2 linked regions of the Homo sapiens genome follow. The protein of the gene in region 1 purifies or fractionates together with the protein of each later gene. This does not show direct contact. Each region holds a gene or a part of one and is shown in the gene's direction. Other genes may lie near its edges.

Region 1 (7,775 bases):
AAAATACCTCTCTGGCTCTTAAGAAAATAAGGTCAATATTAGTAAACAAGTTGTCAACCTGTGACCCAAGTTAGAAAAATGTCTTGTTTACAATTATGGTCAGACATTATGCTCAGTCTCTTATTAGTTCTCACTGTTTGCAGATTCCTTTGGATTTTCTACATCCACAGTGATAGGGTCTGAAAATAACAATTATTTGTCTCTCTTTCTAATCCAGTTACATCTTCTTTACTTTTCTTGTCTCATTGCTTTGGCCAAGACACCAGGTAATTAATAAATACTATCAGTGACTAGAGAAATCCTTGTCTTAGTCTTGACTTTGATACTACTTCTTCTAAAGGTTCAGCATTAAGTATGATGTTTGCCAAAGTTTACTAAACATTTTTGAAATTATGAATCCATATTTTTATCAAAGTTTTTACTATGTCTTCTGAGATGATCATATGTTGTTTTACATTTAATCAATGTGATGGACTATGCTGATAAATTTTTGAAATATTGGCCCATTCTCACATTCATGGGATAAATGCTATTTAGTCATGGTGTGTTTTTATATGCCAACGGCTTTGATTTGCTAAAGTGTCATTTAGGATCTTTGCAACTATCTTCATAAGTGATGCTGGCGTGTAATTTTCTTTTCCTGTATTTGCAGGATTTGTGTATCAAGGCTCCTTTTAGCACATATGCCCTCCCTTTCCATGTGCTGTGGATTTCTGCACTGTTTCTCATTCACAGAAATTTTTCCCTTAGTTTTGAGCAAGGCCATACATTTTAATACATTTGAAAATGCTTTATCTATCATTACTGTGTTTTTCAAGTCCACATGGATTCGTTTTGCCACTTGACAGGAAGTCTTTTTTAAAAGATTTGACCATTATTTCAATCAAGTCAGTGGAGAGAATGGATATAAAAACATGTGATCAGACATGAGAAATTACAGACAAGATGGAGTGAGTGAATTTATCTCTATTCTTGCCACTAATTACAAATTTTAAAAAAAAAATCCTGGACATAATATATAAAACACAAACACAAGAAGATTCTAAACAGTTGAGAGATGAAGGGGGGCAAGGAGCCTCTGGACATGAGGAATGACATGACAATGAGTTACCCGTGTTTTCTTTTTGTCCCCTGTGTATTGTAGGCCATGTGCTAGATAAGAATATAATCTAGAAACGCCAATCCCAAGGATTTTCTGTTCTCTCCTGCCAAAAGACTGGAAAGGGGACTGCTGGAATAGAAGCCTTTAAACAATAATCACCATATTCTAGCCAAACATCATGTGGAAATATGGGACACCACCCCCCCGCCAACAGCAAAGGCCAAGTGGAAAACCTATATTTAAACCCCCCACCCCACCCCTTGGCAGTAAGGAATCATCCCTCCCCACTCCCCACTCCCCACTGGGGTGGCATCAGAAGAGGCTAAGTAGGAAGACTGAACATGCACTCCCTCCCTGAAGCAATGAGGCACTCCTCCCAATTCTTGCTTTGGGTGGTGTCAGAAAAGGCCAAATGGAGGGTCTGGATTTTTACCACTGCTCAGCAGTAATGTGGTCCCCTACCTTATCATCACTGTGTCAAAAATCACTCATCATAACAAGAACCAGGACAATCTTGACTTGAATGAACAAAAGGCAATCAACAGACACCAAAACCAAGACAACACAGACGTTAGAATTATCTTACAAGGATTTTAAAGAAACCATAGTAAAAATGCTTCAACTAGCAGCTATGAACACATTTAAAACAAATAAACAAAAAAACTAGAAAGTCTTTAAAAAAAGAGTAGAAGATATAAAGAAGAACCAAAGGGAAATTTTAGAATTGAATAATACAATGACTGAAAGGTAAAACTAATTGAATGAGTTTAATGAGCTTAATAGCAAAATGGAGGCCAGGGCCAGTGGCTCATACTGGCAATCCCAGCACTTGGGGAGGCCAAGGTGGGCGGATCACCTGAGGTCAAGAGTACAAGACCAGCCTGGCCAACATGGCAAAACTCTGTCGCTACCAAAATATAAAAATTAGCCAGGTGTGGTGGCGGGTGCCAGTAATCCCAGCTACTTAGGAGGCTGAGGCAGGAGAATCGCTTGAGCCCAGGAGACAGAGGTTGCAGTGAGCTGAGATCGTGCACTCCAGCCTGGGCAACAGAGTGAGACTCTGTCTCAGAAAAAATAAAAAAATAAAAAATTGCAAAATGGAGATGAAAAAGGAAAGAATCAGTGTACTTGAAGATAAACAATAGAAAATACCCAATCTGAAAACAGAGTGAAAATAGGCCAAAAAAAAAAAAAAAAAAAAAAAAAAATGGAGCCTCAGAGCCCTGTGGGAGAAAAACAAAAGATTTATAACATTCATGTCATCAGAATTTTAGGAGAGAAGCGAGAATGTGAGGCTGAAAAAAAAGTATTCAAAAAATAATGAAATTTCCCCAAACTTAGCAAAAGGTAAAAACCTACAGATTCAAGAGACTCAATGAATCACAAATAAGAGAAACCCAAAGAAATTCACACCAAGACACATTATAATCACACTTCTGAAAACTAAAGACAAACAAAAAACTTTTAAAACAGCTAGAGAAAAATGACACATTACCTACAGGGAAAACAACTTAAATGACGGCTGATTTCTCACTGGAAACCATGGAGGGGAGGAGTGTCATGACACTTTTCAAGTGTTGAAAGAAAAAAAACTGTCAACCTAGAATTTTATACCCAGGAATGAGGGTTAAATCAAGACATTCTCAGGTGAAGGAAAACTAAGATAATTTGTTATCAGCAGGCTTATCATAAAAGAATTCCTAAAGAATATCTTGAAACAGAAAGAAATGATTAAAGAAGAAAACTTGAAGGCTGGGTGTGGTGGCTCATACCTGTAATCCCAGCACTTTGGGAGGCCAAAGTTGGTGGATCACCTGAGGTCAGGAGTTTGAGACTAGCCTGGCCAACATGGCGAAACCTGATCTCTACTAAAAGTACAAAAAGTAGGTGGGCATGGTGGCATGAGCCTGTAGTCCCAGCTACTCAGGAGGCTGAGGCAGGAGAATCGCTTGAACCCAGGAGGCGGAGATTGCAGTGAGCCAAGATCATGCCACTACACTCCAGCCTGTATGACAGAGCAAGACTTCGTCCAAAAAAAAATAAAAAGAAGGAAACTTGAAACATTAGAAATAAAGAAATAACAATGAAAAGAGTTAAAATATGGGTAAATGTAATGGATTGTCCTTCTCCTCTTGAGTGTTCTGAATTATGTTCAACAATTGAAGCAAAACTTATAATCTTACCGATATGGTTCTCAATGAATATAGACAATATATTTAAGACAAGTATAAAGATAGACTAATAAAGAAACCTAATATAGGTAAGTTTTCTATACCTAGTTCAACTGGTAAAATGTCAACACTGATAGGTAGATCAAAAGTTATGTATGTAAAATGCAATATGTACAGCAACCAGTAAAAAAACTCTTCAAAAAGATACATTATAGATAAATCAAAATGGAATTATAAAAAATATTCCAGTAACACACAGGATGGCCAGGAAAGTGAAACAGAGGAACAAAATAAACAAACAAAAGCCCAGAAGAACAAAGAGAAAATAATAACATGGCAAACTTAAGCTCTGATATATAAATAATTACATTATGTAAGTCAGTTAAATAGAATAGATAGCTCCAGAATATACCCACACAAGTATAAGTGCTGATTTTTGATAAAGATACAAAAGTAATTCAATGTAGGAAAGATCATCTTTTCCATCACATGGTAGTAGAACAATTGAACACCCACAGGCAGAAGAAAAAAAAACACGCACATTGTAATCATACTTCTGAAAACCAAAGGCAAACAAAAAACTTTTAAAACAGCTAGAGAAAAATGACACATTACCTATAGGGAAAACAATTTAAATGATGGCTGATTTCTCACTGGAAACCATGGAGGGGAGGAGTGTCATGACACTTTTCAAGTGTCGAAAGCAAAAAAAAACTGTCAACCATATTACCTGATATGGTTCTCAATGAATATAGACAATATATTTAGGTGAATCTCAACCTAAACTTCACACCTTACATTAAAACAGGATCATACATTTAAATGTAAAACATAAAACTATAAAACTTTCAGGAGAAAACCTTTGGACCCTAGTGTGGGTAGAAAAAAAACTGATAAGTTGAATTTCATCAAAATTAAAATTTTTGCTCTGCCAAAGACCCCGTTAAGAAGATGAAAAGACAGGCTACAGACCAAGAGAAAATATTTGTAAACCACATATCTGACAAATGACTCTTATACTTGGAACATATAAGGAATTGTCAAAGCTCAACAGTAAAAAAAATAAAGAATCTGATTATAAAATGGACAAAAGACATAAATAGACATTTCACCAAGGAGGATATGGATATATAGATGGCAAATAAGCACATGAAAAGATGTTCAACATTATTAGGCTTTAGGGAAATGCAAATTAAAGCCACAATGAGGTATCACTACAGCACCTATTAAAACAGCTAAAATATAAAATGGGAATATACCAAATGCTGATGAAGATGGGGAGCAAATAGATCTCTCATAGATTGCTGGTGGCAAGGTAAAATGCTCTATTCACTCTGAAAATAATTTAGCAATTACTCAATCTCACATGTCTGCGGCGTGACCCCTCCTGCTTCTTTAAATATCAGCTGGGGAAGAGGTCTGAGTAATACCTAAGAGGGAAGTGGCTTCATTTCAGTGGCTGACTTCCAGAGAGCAATATGGCTGGTTCCCCAACATGCCTCACCCTCATCTATATCCTTTGGCAGCTCACAGGTGAGTCCGGCCGGATTCTCTTCCACTCTCCTGTCTACCCCATCCTGAATAGTTCCAGGTTTCTTGTTCCACTCTGGGCCTCTGGCTCAACTCGGGAGGCTCTGTGTTCTCATCTAACATTTGCTTTTTATCAATCTCTGATCTCTGATTCTCAGGTCAGGAAGAGACTAGAGAGAGGGGGAAAAATGGCTCTGGGAACTGACTCCCCTGTTGACTGTCCCAGGGATGAAGGAGCTGAAAGAAGTGGTGCTGGGTATCAGAGACCATTTTTCTAATCCAGGTTCTGCCATGAGTTAGATAAGGAATGTTAAAGTTTTCCTGGGCCTCAGAAACTTTATCTTCTAGCCTTCTCTCCTTTTGAGGGCAACTTTAAGAACAAGATGATACTATACAGGTATGTATTTATTTACTTATAAATGTATTTATAAAATTGGTTATGCATAACAGTAATATAAATGGAAAGAATCACTTGAATTTTCTTTCCTTACTCAAGCAATGTAATCAGTCTCTACTTAGAGAACCAACTCATACCATAGGCACTTTATGTTTAATCCCATGGAGGACAGAGGACAGTTCTCCACCTGTCACTGGTATTCTAGTCTTTGAAGATTTTTCTATCCTAAGGGCTCTCAGAAAGGATCAGGAGCCCTATAAGTGAGAAATATCTCTTCTGTCATCAATCTCATGGAGTACTACCATGAGGTCCCCCTATAAGGACTTCACATAACTGCTTCATTATGTGTATCTGAGCCTGCCTGGAGTGATCTGCCCAAGACCACGCAGGCAGCTGGTGCCCCCAATATTTTCCCCTGCATCGCTAAGTGGTCAGCATCAGCAGACTCTTACCCACTTTGAATTCATCAGAAGTTTGTATTTTTGAGAGGTACCTGGGTCTAACCAGGTGGTTCTGGAATAGGCCCTCACTTTAAAAAAAAAAAACAAAAAAAAAACTCCCTGAACGGAAATGATGAGCAGAAATAGAACTTGAGGGAGATAAGGTGGAGGGGTTGGGGAAAATTATAGAGACTTTGAAAGCTACAGGTGTCCATCTGAAATCAGTCAGCGAAAGAGCACAAGTATGAAAAACTGCCATGCAGGTCCCCCTCTGCCCTCCTCCAGAGGCAGCCTGTGTAGTGTACCTCCTGAGGCTGAAAGGAGACAGAGATTGTCCTGGAACTTCCAGTGGGCAGGGCAGTGGAACAAATCCTGGCACTGGACAAGCGCATCCTTGGTTTGACTTAGTAGCTGTATTATTGTAGGCAAATTACTCTTCCCTTCTGAGCCTTGCTCTTCTCAGGTGTGTAACAGAGAATGAAATCTAAGTTGCAGAATTATTGTGACATTTTAAATGACATATCAAATGCAAAATAATTATTAAAATAATCACCATTTATTAAGTTACTACATCGCAGGTGTTTTTCATACCACCTCCTCATGAGTCTGTAAGACAGATATCATTATCCCTGTTTTACAGTTGAGGAAACTTAGGCTCAGCAGAGAGATCACGCTTCTTGGGCAAGATAACACAGCATTTATAAGGTAGCCAGAGATTGAGTTTAGAAAGCTAGAAAGCTAGTGCTCTTTTAATCATAACAAGCCGTCTATCACTGGACCTGGCACCAAAGAGATGCTCACTACATGTGCATTTGAGCTGAATCTTCCTCAGGGAGTACCAGTTGGGGTTTCTTCCCTCTCCAGGTACATAAATCTGAGGTAGAAACTGGAAAGGCCCGAGAAGAACGGGTAGCTCTGTTTCTGGGATATGGGTGTACCAACAGGGGGCCACCCTGGCTAAACTCAGAGGGTCCATGAAGCAGTTCTCATGGCCTCAGTATTCTCATCTGAAAAATGGGCACAGTAATCTGCCAATGATTTGATGATACAGTAGTGTCAAGGAGACAATCAATAAAAAGAAAACAAAAAAGTGGGTGAGGGGAATTGGGAGAGTGTTGAAAAGAACCAGAAGAAACAAGGAAGAGGGGGCAGGAGATGAGTGAGGAGCAGAGTGGTGAGCAACCTAAATGTGAATGTGGTCGGTTAGGGCTAGAGTGATGGGAAAGGTGTGTGGTGAAGCGGGAAACTTTCAAGCCTCTGTCTGTGGCTGCCTTGTGTGGCATTGAATTACACTGCTCTTTCGTGAGTACATTCGTTAAGGGGGACTTGAGTAAAGTGCAATAGATTTCAAACCACTTTGGGTTTTTTTTGCCTTTTTTTTTAAATCCATGGTTTCCTTTTATGGAATGAAATTTTACACAGAAAAAAACAAATAAATGACTCCAATGTATAGAGTTGAAGCCTAACGGAAGCAAGTCCCATAGCCTCCTATCCTACGCTCACCCCTTAAACCTCCTCCTGAGCTCCCAAGAAATACACTGAGGCACTGCCACAGCCTCCAAAGGTGGCGCCATGGGGCACAGTCTGTGAAATCCTGCCTTAGGAGCCTTGGCTCCTAATCCTGGCCTTCCACTGGTTTGGGAAACATCACCATAACCTTCTGAATATCAGCCTTCTTATCTGTGAAATGGGATTGGACTAAGTAATCCCTAAGACTCCTCCAAGCTCTGAGATGCTCTGGTTCATGGTTTTCATGAGGAGAGTGCCACAACACACTGCTACATTTGGACAGAGGCACCAAGTGTTCAGAGAAGTGCTTGGGGACGGGGTTGGCAAGCAGGAGGCAGGCTTTTCCACTCTCCCCTCCCCCAAAGTCTTCCTGCTTTATCACCATCCCTTGGTTCTGGCTGCACTGATAATGTATCTTCCTCATAATCGGGCTCCTTCCCTCCACTCAACTCTTGAGACTCTAGGGGACAGGACAGGGGAGGAGGTGACAACCAAGAGGAAAGGAAGGTGACAAAGGGCAGGACCTGTTATCCCTTCCTGTTACAGAGGAAATCTCACAGCTGACTCCTCCTGATGCAAAGACATCTGAGTCTTGGCTGGGGCAAAAGACAAAGGGTCTCCTGCCC
Region 2 (7,362 bases), on another chromosome or scaffold:
AGAGACGGGGTTTCACCATGTTAGCCAAGATGGTCTCGATCTCCTGACCTCATAATCCGCCTGGTTCGGCCTCCCAAAGTGCTGGGATTACAGGTGTGAGCCACTGTGCCCGGCCTATTTGTAACTTCTATAAGTGGATAATGAAATGTATCAAAGTACACCTCATCATTCTATTATGGTATCATTGTAGTATATGCATTTAGAATAGACTAGCGTAATACTACTCTGACTCCTCGATGATTTTTAGCAGAAGGTAAAAAGTATCCTGTTTTATCATCAGCGCTTCTCCCCAAGGTATTTTAGATTCACTCATTATATGAATCTAAATCTGAAAGAAATATGAATATGAAGATTCTTAATGAATAAGTCTTTCTAAAATCTGATTTATGTGTAATCATGAGGTGTTGATTTTGTCATATATTGTCCTCTTGGTGTCTAAAGCAAAAAGAATTGGTTATTGAAAGTAAATTTACAGTAGTGATATGCAGTTCTGACTGGCAGACTGGCTGCCTGTAGAAATCTCAAGCCACATAGAAGACATCATTATCTTTGAGATTAGCCTTTTCCTAAAACTTAAACATTCAAAACCACATTTAATTTGTTTAGCCAGGTGATCATAGCCCAGGTGTACCTTTCTCAAGCTTAGAAAAGCAGAGAGTTGCTGTAAATTGTAAATGTGACTGTTGGTTGTCTGCCATCCTATATGAGGATGAAACCAGCCTCCAGGAGCACAGAGCATCACCCCCACTTCTTTCCCTTGTTCTCCTCTGGGTGGGGCCCATTCTGATGCACTTACAGATGCTACTAGACTCCTGCTGTTTCTTAAGGTGTGCTCACACTCAGTCTAGGGGTTGTTTCTAAATTTAGAGAATGATTACAACATACGTTTTTCCTCTGTTTCTTTTATTTTATGTCAGTCTGCTGTAAATTCTGTTTACTTGTTTAAATGATTGGTGTACTTCTGCACTCCAGGATTCCTGATTGTCTGAAATCTCCATTTCTCCCCCTCCAGACTGTGAGAGGACTTCGTTCTCTGTTGTGTCCCAGTACCTGGCACAGTACCTGCCATAGTCTGTGTCTGTCCTTTTTCCTGTGTCCTACCTTTTGGCTCATTGAATCATTTTCATTACCAGGTACCATGCAGAGAACAAAAATTTCACTTTGGGGGAGTATAAATTTGGACCGCTTTTTGTGAGGTTGTGTTACGAGTTGGATCTCGAGGAATCTGCAGTGGAGCTCATGAAAGACCAGGTTATTGTTTCCTAATTGTTTTCTCTGCCAATGTGTGTGTTTTTGGTGATATTGGAAAAGGCATGTCTTCTATGTACATTATTCCTGGGTTAGATTTTCAAAGAAAGGCTGCTGGGGCTGAATGAGCACATCTCTGCATTTTTAAGTTTCCTTGCAGTCAGTTTGTGTGAAGGGGGGTGGAGTAATATAGAACAAGTGTGGAGGAGGTATAGGTACAGATGATCCTACCTTGGATGTGTATCAATGTGGGTTGTACACCTGCTTTTTTAGGGGCTTTCAATAGAGAAGAGCTTAAGACAGTCTCCATTTAAAGACTGACATTCCTATCCTTTACCTGTATTCCCTCTCGATTTTGTATTTGTATTTTTCTGGTTGAAGACTACATTTGGGAAGTGCTTTTCTATTTTCAAAATACTTTCCGTCACATATTCTGACTTTCTGTTCCTAAAAACAAAAGTAAATAATTATTTTTACAGCTACTCATTGAATATTTACTATGTCTTCAGCATTGTGTTTAAGTACTTTAAATGTTTCATTTTATTTGTTTCTCACAATAGCCCTGATAAGGTAGATTTCCATTTTGTAGATAAAGAAACTAGGACCTAGAGACATTATAAATTCATTCATTCATTATGAAGTCATTTTGATTACTAGATGCCATGTAGAGAACAGAAACATCACTTTGGGGGAGTGTAAGCTTAGACTGCTTTTCATGAGGCTGTGTTTCCCATAATCAGAAACATTTGCTAAATTTTGGGGCCACGGCTGGCCACCAGGTACCTTTTTGTATATTTAGGAACTTACATAACAAGTTGAGTTGTTCTTCTGCCTCTTACTCTTTTTTTATACAAAATTTTCTCTGTACATGGTGGGCATGTTAACTCTAGACTTGCTCCTATTTAATGACACCTGTGTATTAGAAAGATACCCATAATATATTAGTAAGCAGAGAAAAGGTTGTTTCGGAACAGTACAGATAGTTTGATCCTGTTTTTTTTTGTTCCATAAGAAAAGACACATATTAACATTAACATTTTAACAAAATATAAATACATAGATACTGGAAAGATAGACACTAAATCACTTTATCTTTAGGGGGTAGAATTATTAAAAATTCTCACTTTTTACTTTATACATTTTTGTATTATTTGACTATTTTTAATAAACATATGTTAATGTTTCAGTTAAAGGAAAACAAAAGCTTCCCACTGTAATAAATCATAGCCATGAGTATGGTGATAAAAACAAAAATAAAAAAGATGAAAGCAAACGGGTTTTTTTTAGCCTGCTTGTATATGAAAAAGTCATGTATAGGTAAATTTTCTGGAGTAGAATGGACAAATTCGAGTAAGTGACATAGGACCTAATCCTGCTTCTAGCCGAACTTCTCTTGTTCCCTACTTACAACCCTGTAGTGTTGCCAGCATGGTAGCCACATGGAGTCATTGAACTGTGGCTAACTCAAATTTACATGTGCTGTAAGTATAAAATATATGATGGATTTTAATTACTTGTTATAAAAAGAATGCAATGTATGTTAATTTTTATATTGATTACATGTTGAAATTACATCTTGGATATAGTGGGTTAAATAATTTAGTCTATTTCTGTTTACTTTTTTAAATGAGGCTAATTGAAAATTTAGAGTCACATACATTGTGATTCTAAAATATCCTTGGTGACTCAAAATGCTTTTCCATTGGCTGGGGCTGCTCTGGTGGCTTTCCCTCACACTTAGAAGAAAACCCAGACCCTTGACTCTGACCTAGGGGGCCCATTGTGCCATCTCCCCTTTCTCCCTTGCTGACTTCACTCTGGACCTGCATGTTCTTCCTCAGCCATGGCGAGCTCACAGCCTCTAACTGGAACATTCTGCATTCTTATCCTTGAGGCTCCCTCCTTGACCTCACTGAGGTCTCTTCTCACAGTGCCTTCCCTGACTACCTTCCATCCATCTTCTCTACTTGCTCTTCATAGACTTTACTAATAGCTGAAATTAATATTTTTTTTCACTTGTCTTATTCACTGTCTTCTCCACCAGAATTTAAGCTCTACTAGATTATAAACCCTAGTAGGGTTTTGAGCAGGGTGTATATCCTGTTTATCATTTCTTTATTCTCAGCACCTAGAACAGGGTCTGCATAGTAGGTGATCGGAAAAGAGTGAACTTGAGCAAGGCATTTAATGACACATTTGAATACCATGTGTCCCATTATCATGGCACACAAAATGTTGAGATGTTAGCAAGATGTTGGTCAAAGGATACAAAATTTCAGTAAGATGGAATAAGTTCAAGGGATTTCTCTGTACAACATAGTGACTATAGTTAATGACAATGTATTGTATTCTTCAAAATTGCCTAAAGAATAGGTTTTATGTACTTTCACCACACAAAATGAGTATGTGAAGTAATGCATATGTTAATTAGCTTGGCTTAGCCATTCTGTAATATATACATATTTCAAAACAACATACTGTTTTTTGGGGTTTTTTTTGGATACAGGGTCTTGCTCCGTCACCTAAGCGGGAATACAGTGGCACTATTATCATAGCTCATTGCAGTCTCATAACTCTTGGGTTCAAGTGATCGTCCTACCTCAGTCTCCCAAGTAGCTAGGATTCCAGCCTTGTGCCACCACACCCAGCTAATTTTTTAAATTTTTATTATTTTTTTTAAGAGATGGGATCTTGCTGTATTGCCCAGGCTGGTCCTGAACTCTTGGCCTCAAGTGATCCCGCCTCTCCCTCCCAAAGTACTGGGATTACAGGCGTGAGCCACCACACCTGGCCAAATATATACAATTTTTATTTGTCAATTAAATAAATACATACAGACAAGTTGGAAAAAAATGTTGAGAACCACTGTTTTGGAGAATTATTTCAAAAGGCGAATAATCAATTCTGTATTATCCGTTGCCAAAAAAAGACCATAGTTGTGTGAGACCCTCCTGCCTTAGTCCTCAAGTATATTTATAGCTGCCATTTCATGTTAATAGCTGGCACCTAGTTTCCAGGACCACTCTGCCAGGGTTAACTGGCTAGTTTCTTTTCTCCTAAGCATGACAAATGACGGTTCCTTAAAGACGTCCTTCATGGTAATTATGAAACCCAGAGATCTCTTGCTATACCTCTCAGCATGACAGCCAAGAGAGTGGACAGCATTTTAACTTTTTTCTTTTTTTTTTTTTCTTTTTGAGACGGAGTCTCGCCCTGTCACCCAGGCTGGAGTGCAGTGGCGTGATCTCGGCTTACTGCAGCCTCCACCTCCTGGGTTCAAGCAATTCTCTGCCTCAGCCTCCTGAGTAGCTGGGATTACAGGTGCCCACCACCATGCCCAGCTAATTTTTGTATTTTTAGTAGAGACGGGGTTTCACCATGTTGGCCAGGCTGGTCTTGAACTTCTGACCTCGTGATCCACCTGCCTTGGGCTCCCAAAGTGCTGAGATTATAGGCGTGAGCCACCACGCCCGGCCAACTTTTCAAAAATAAAACCTGGGTATATAAAATATATTAGAGAATTCAGAAGGCCAAATGAGTAAAGCATGCAGAATAATAAGACCTGGCTAGATAAGAGACAGTAAAAGTACCTCCTCAATAAATAGTTTTAACTTTTAACCAAACTGTATTGTTCTTCTTCGTTAGCATTTACGAGGTTTCTTCTCAGACTCCACATCATTCAATATTTTGATGGATATGTTATTTATCAAAGGCAAATATAAAAGTAAGTACTGCAATTTCTATTTGCTGAAAAATTCTGCCATGTTTGCTGGCATAGGAACTAGGGGGAAAAATGAGTCATGCAAAAATGATTCTTCTGTAATCCCAGCACTTTGGGAGGCTGAGGCGGGTGGATCATGAGGTCAGGAGATCGAGACCATCCTGGCTAACAAGGTGAAACCCCGTCTCTACTAAAAATACAAAAAATTAGCCGGGCGCGGTGGCGGGCGCCTGTAGTCCCAGCTACTCGGGAGGCTGAGGCAGGAGAATGGCGTGAACCCGGGAAGCGGAGCTTGCAGTGAGCCGAGATTGCGCCACTGCAGTCCGCAGTCCGGCCTGGGCGACAGAGCGAGACTCCGTCTCAAAAAAAAAAAAAAAAAAATGATTCTTATATCCCTGATAAGTGGCTGAATTCTGGAGACCTTAGGAAGTTTGAAAACATTGCATTGCATGTCATCCCTTAAACTAAATATCCCAGATTTTACTTATGCTAAAATTGTGAAGCAGCTTTTAAAACATTAGTTCTTCCTGTTTGACTTGATAGTTTATTTCAACATTTAGTTAATTGCTAAATGACTTTGAGGAATAGCTTTTATTTTGTTGAAATACACTTTTCTGTAGATGGTGCTGAACAGATGAGAGCTTTGGGGGCCAACAGTAGAGGAACTCTAACACTGCGATCCACTCTTCACTTTTGGCAGGTGCTTTGCAAGTATTGATAGAGATGAAAAACCAAGATGTGAAGTTCACCAAAGATACCTATGTTCTTGCTTTTGCAATTTGCTACAAACTGGTAAGACTCTTTCCTCTTAACTTTGAGAGCATTGTGTGTAGTCTTTGAGAGAGGATTTTTCTTCTCTCTACAAATAAAATTCAGTTCCTCTGAAATCTGTTTTCCATCTGGTGCAAATGTTTTAATTTTAAATGTTTTTATTTTTAGAAAACTCAAGTTAGCCATATCAGGCAGTTTTATGGGAAAAGTAATTTTTTCATCTTTCACTCTTCTCTGGTGATTGTGTAGATAGTGAGAACAAGAGGCAATGTGTTGGGTTCAGGCTCTGCTTTAAAGTCATCACGCATGCTGGACTCTGCTAGATCCATCTTCCCTGTTGTCCTTGTCTATGGAAATCTTAGCTTCCTTCATTGGTGAGCTCAAGGACTACTTTGTCCTCATATGTGAAGGCTTTTGCAATCACCGAAACTGGAAGTGATGTTTGTCACCTCCAGATATCCCTTAATTTTGCTCTATTTGTGTCACCTCCCTGGTACTTCTGACACAGCTTAATGTACTTAGCAGATGCACGTTCCATTCTCTCCACTTGAGTGTGAGCTCCTTGAGGTTTCTTTGTATCCCACCACCTAACACAGTGCCTGGTATCCAGTAGTTCTTTAATAAACGTATGTGACATGAAAATGAAGTCCAAGGACAGAGACCATGACTTATACGTTCTTTTATCAATACAAAAAATTAGCCAGGCGTGGTGGCATGCACCTTGTAATCCCAGCTACTCTGGAGGCTGAGGCAGGAGAATTGCTTGAACCCAGGAGGCAGAGGTTGCAGTGAGCCAAGGTTGTGCCACTGCACTCCAGCCTGGGTGACAGAGTGAGACTCTGTCTCAAAAAAAAAAAAAAAAAAAAGTTATTTTATTATTACTGTACCAGGATTATTTCTTGCCCATAGAAACTCTTTCTTCAATGTTTAGTGAATGATCATTGAAATAGTGAAATGATCAATGTTTAATGTATTACTGTTGTCATTCGTATCACTTAAACTTTGGAAACCTGGCACACAAAACCTCTTTATACTGAAAACAAAGGAACATGAAGCGAAGTAGAAGAACATGGGCTGTTGAAAAACTCCCCTGAAGAATGTAGCAATACCAGTTTTCCAAAACAAGGGGATAGCTGGGTTATAGTGGAAAGAAAACCAAGTGGAAATTGAGAAACTTGGAGTCTAGTCTCAACTTTGGTATTATATAGCTTATATATATGACTTATATAGCTGTGAACTGATCACCTATCTCATTTTACAAATGAGATGGTTAGATTTGGGAGTCAGCAAACTTTTTTTATGAAAAGCTAGATAGTAAATATTTTAGGCTTTGGGGGCCACATATGTCTCTGCCTCATGTGATCTCTGCCCCATATTCTTTGTTTTTGTTTTTACAGGCCTTTAAAAATGTTAAAGTCATTCTTAGCTGTAGGCTACATTTAGCCCAAGGGTCATAGTTTGCTGACCTCTGGATTCAATAATTCTTTCCATTCATACCATTCTATGATTCTAGGAGGCCAAAAAAAAAACACCACACAGCACTAGAGCATCACTTATTCAGCATTGAAATTCCCAGCCTTCTTGTCCTCTACTTAGGGATGCCTCCCTGAGTGTATACTGCA

What was found. Proteins that work in one complex are often made in the same cells at the same time.
Region 2: the proteins of SLAMF7 (region 1) and PTCD2 purify together in Homo sapiens (affinity purification with mass spectrometry; 3 studies listed by BioGRID and IntAct, with this or other methods). This does not show direct contact.

What each region holds. Positions count from the first base shown.
Region 1 is NC_000001.11:160,734,551-160,742,325, forward strand, and holds the start of SLAMF7 (SLAM family member 7 isoform a precursor), read left to right. Parts: upstream 1-4,696; 5' UTR 4,697-4,751; coding exon 4,752-4,806; intron 4,807-7,775. UniProt on the Homo sapiens protein: Self-ligand receptor of the signaling lymphocytic activation molecule (SLAM) family.
Region 2 is NC_000005.10:72,330,125-72,337,486, forward strand, and holds part of PTCD2 (pentatricopeptide repeat-containing protein 2, mitochondrial), read left to right. Parts: intron 1-1,133; coding exon 1,134-1,251; intron 1,252-4,893; coding exon 4,894-4,972; intron 4,973-5,669; coding exon 5,670-5,761; intron 5,762-7,362. UniProt on the Homo sapiens protein: Involved in mitochondrial RNA maturation and mitochondrial respiratory chain function.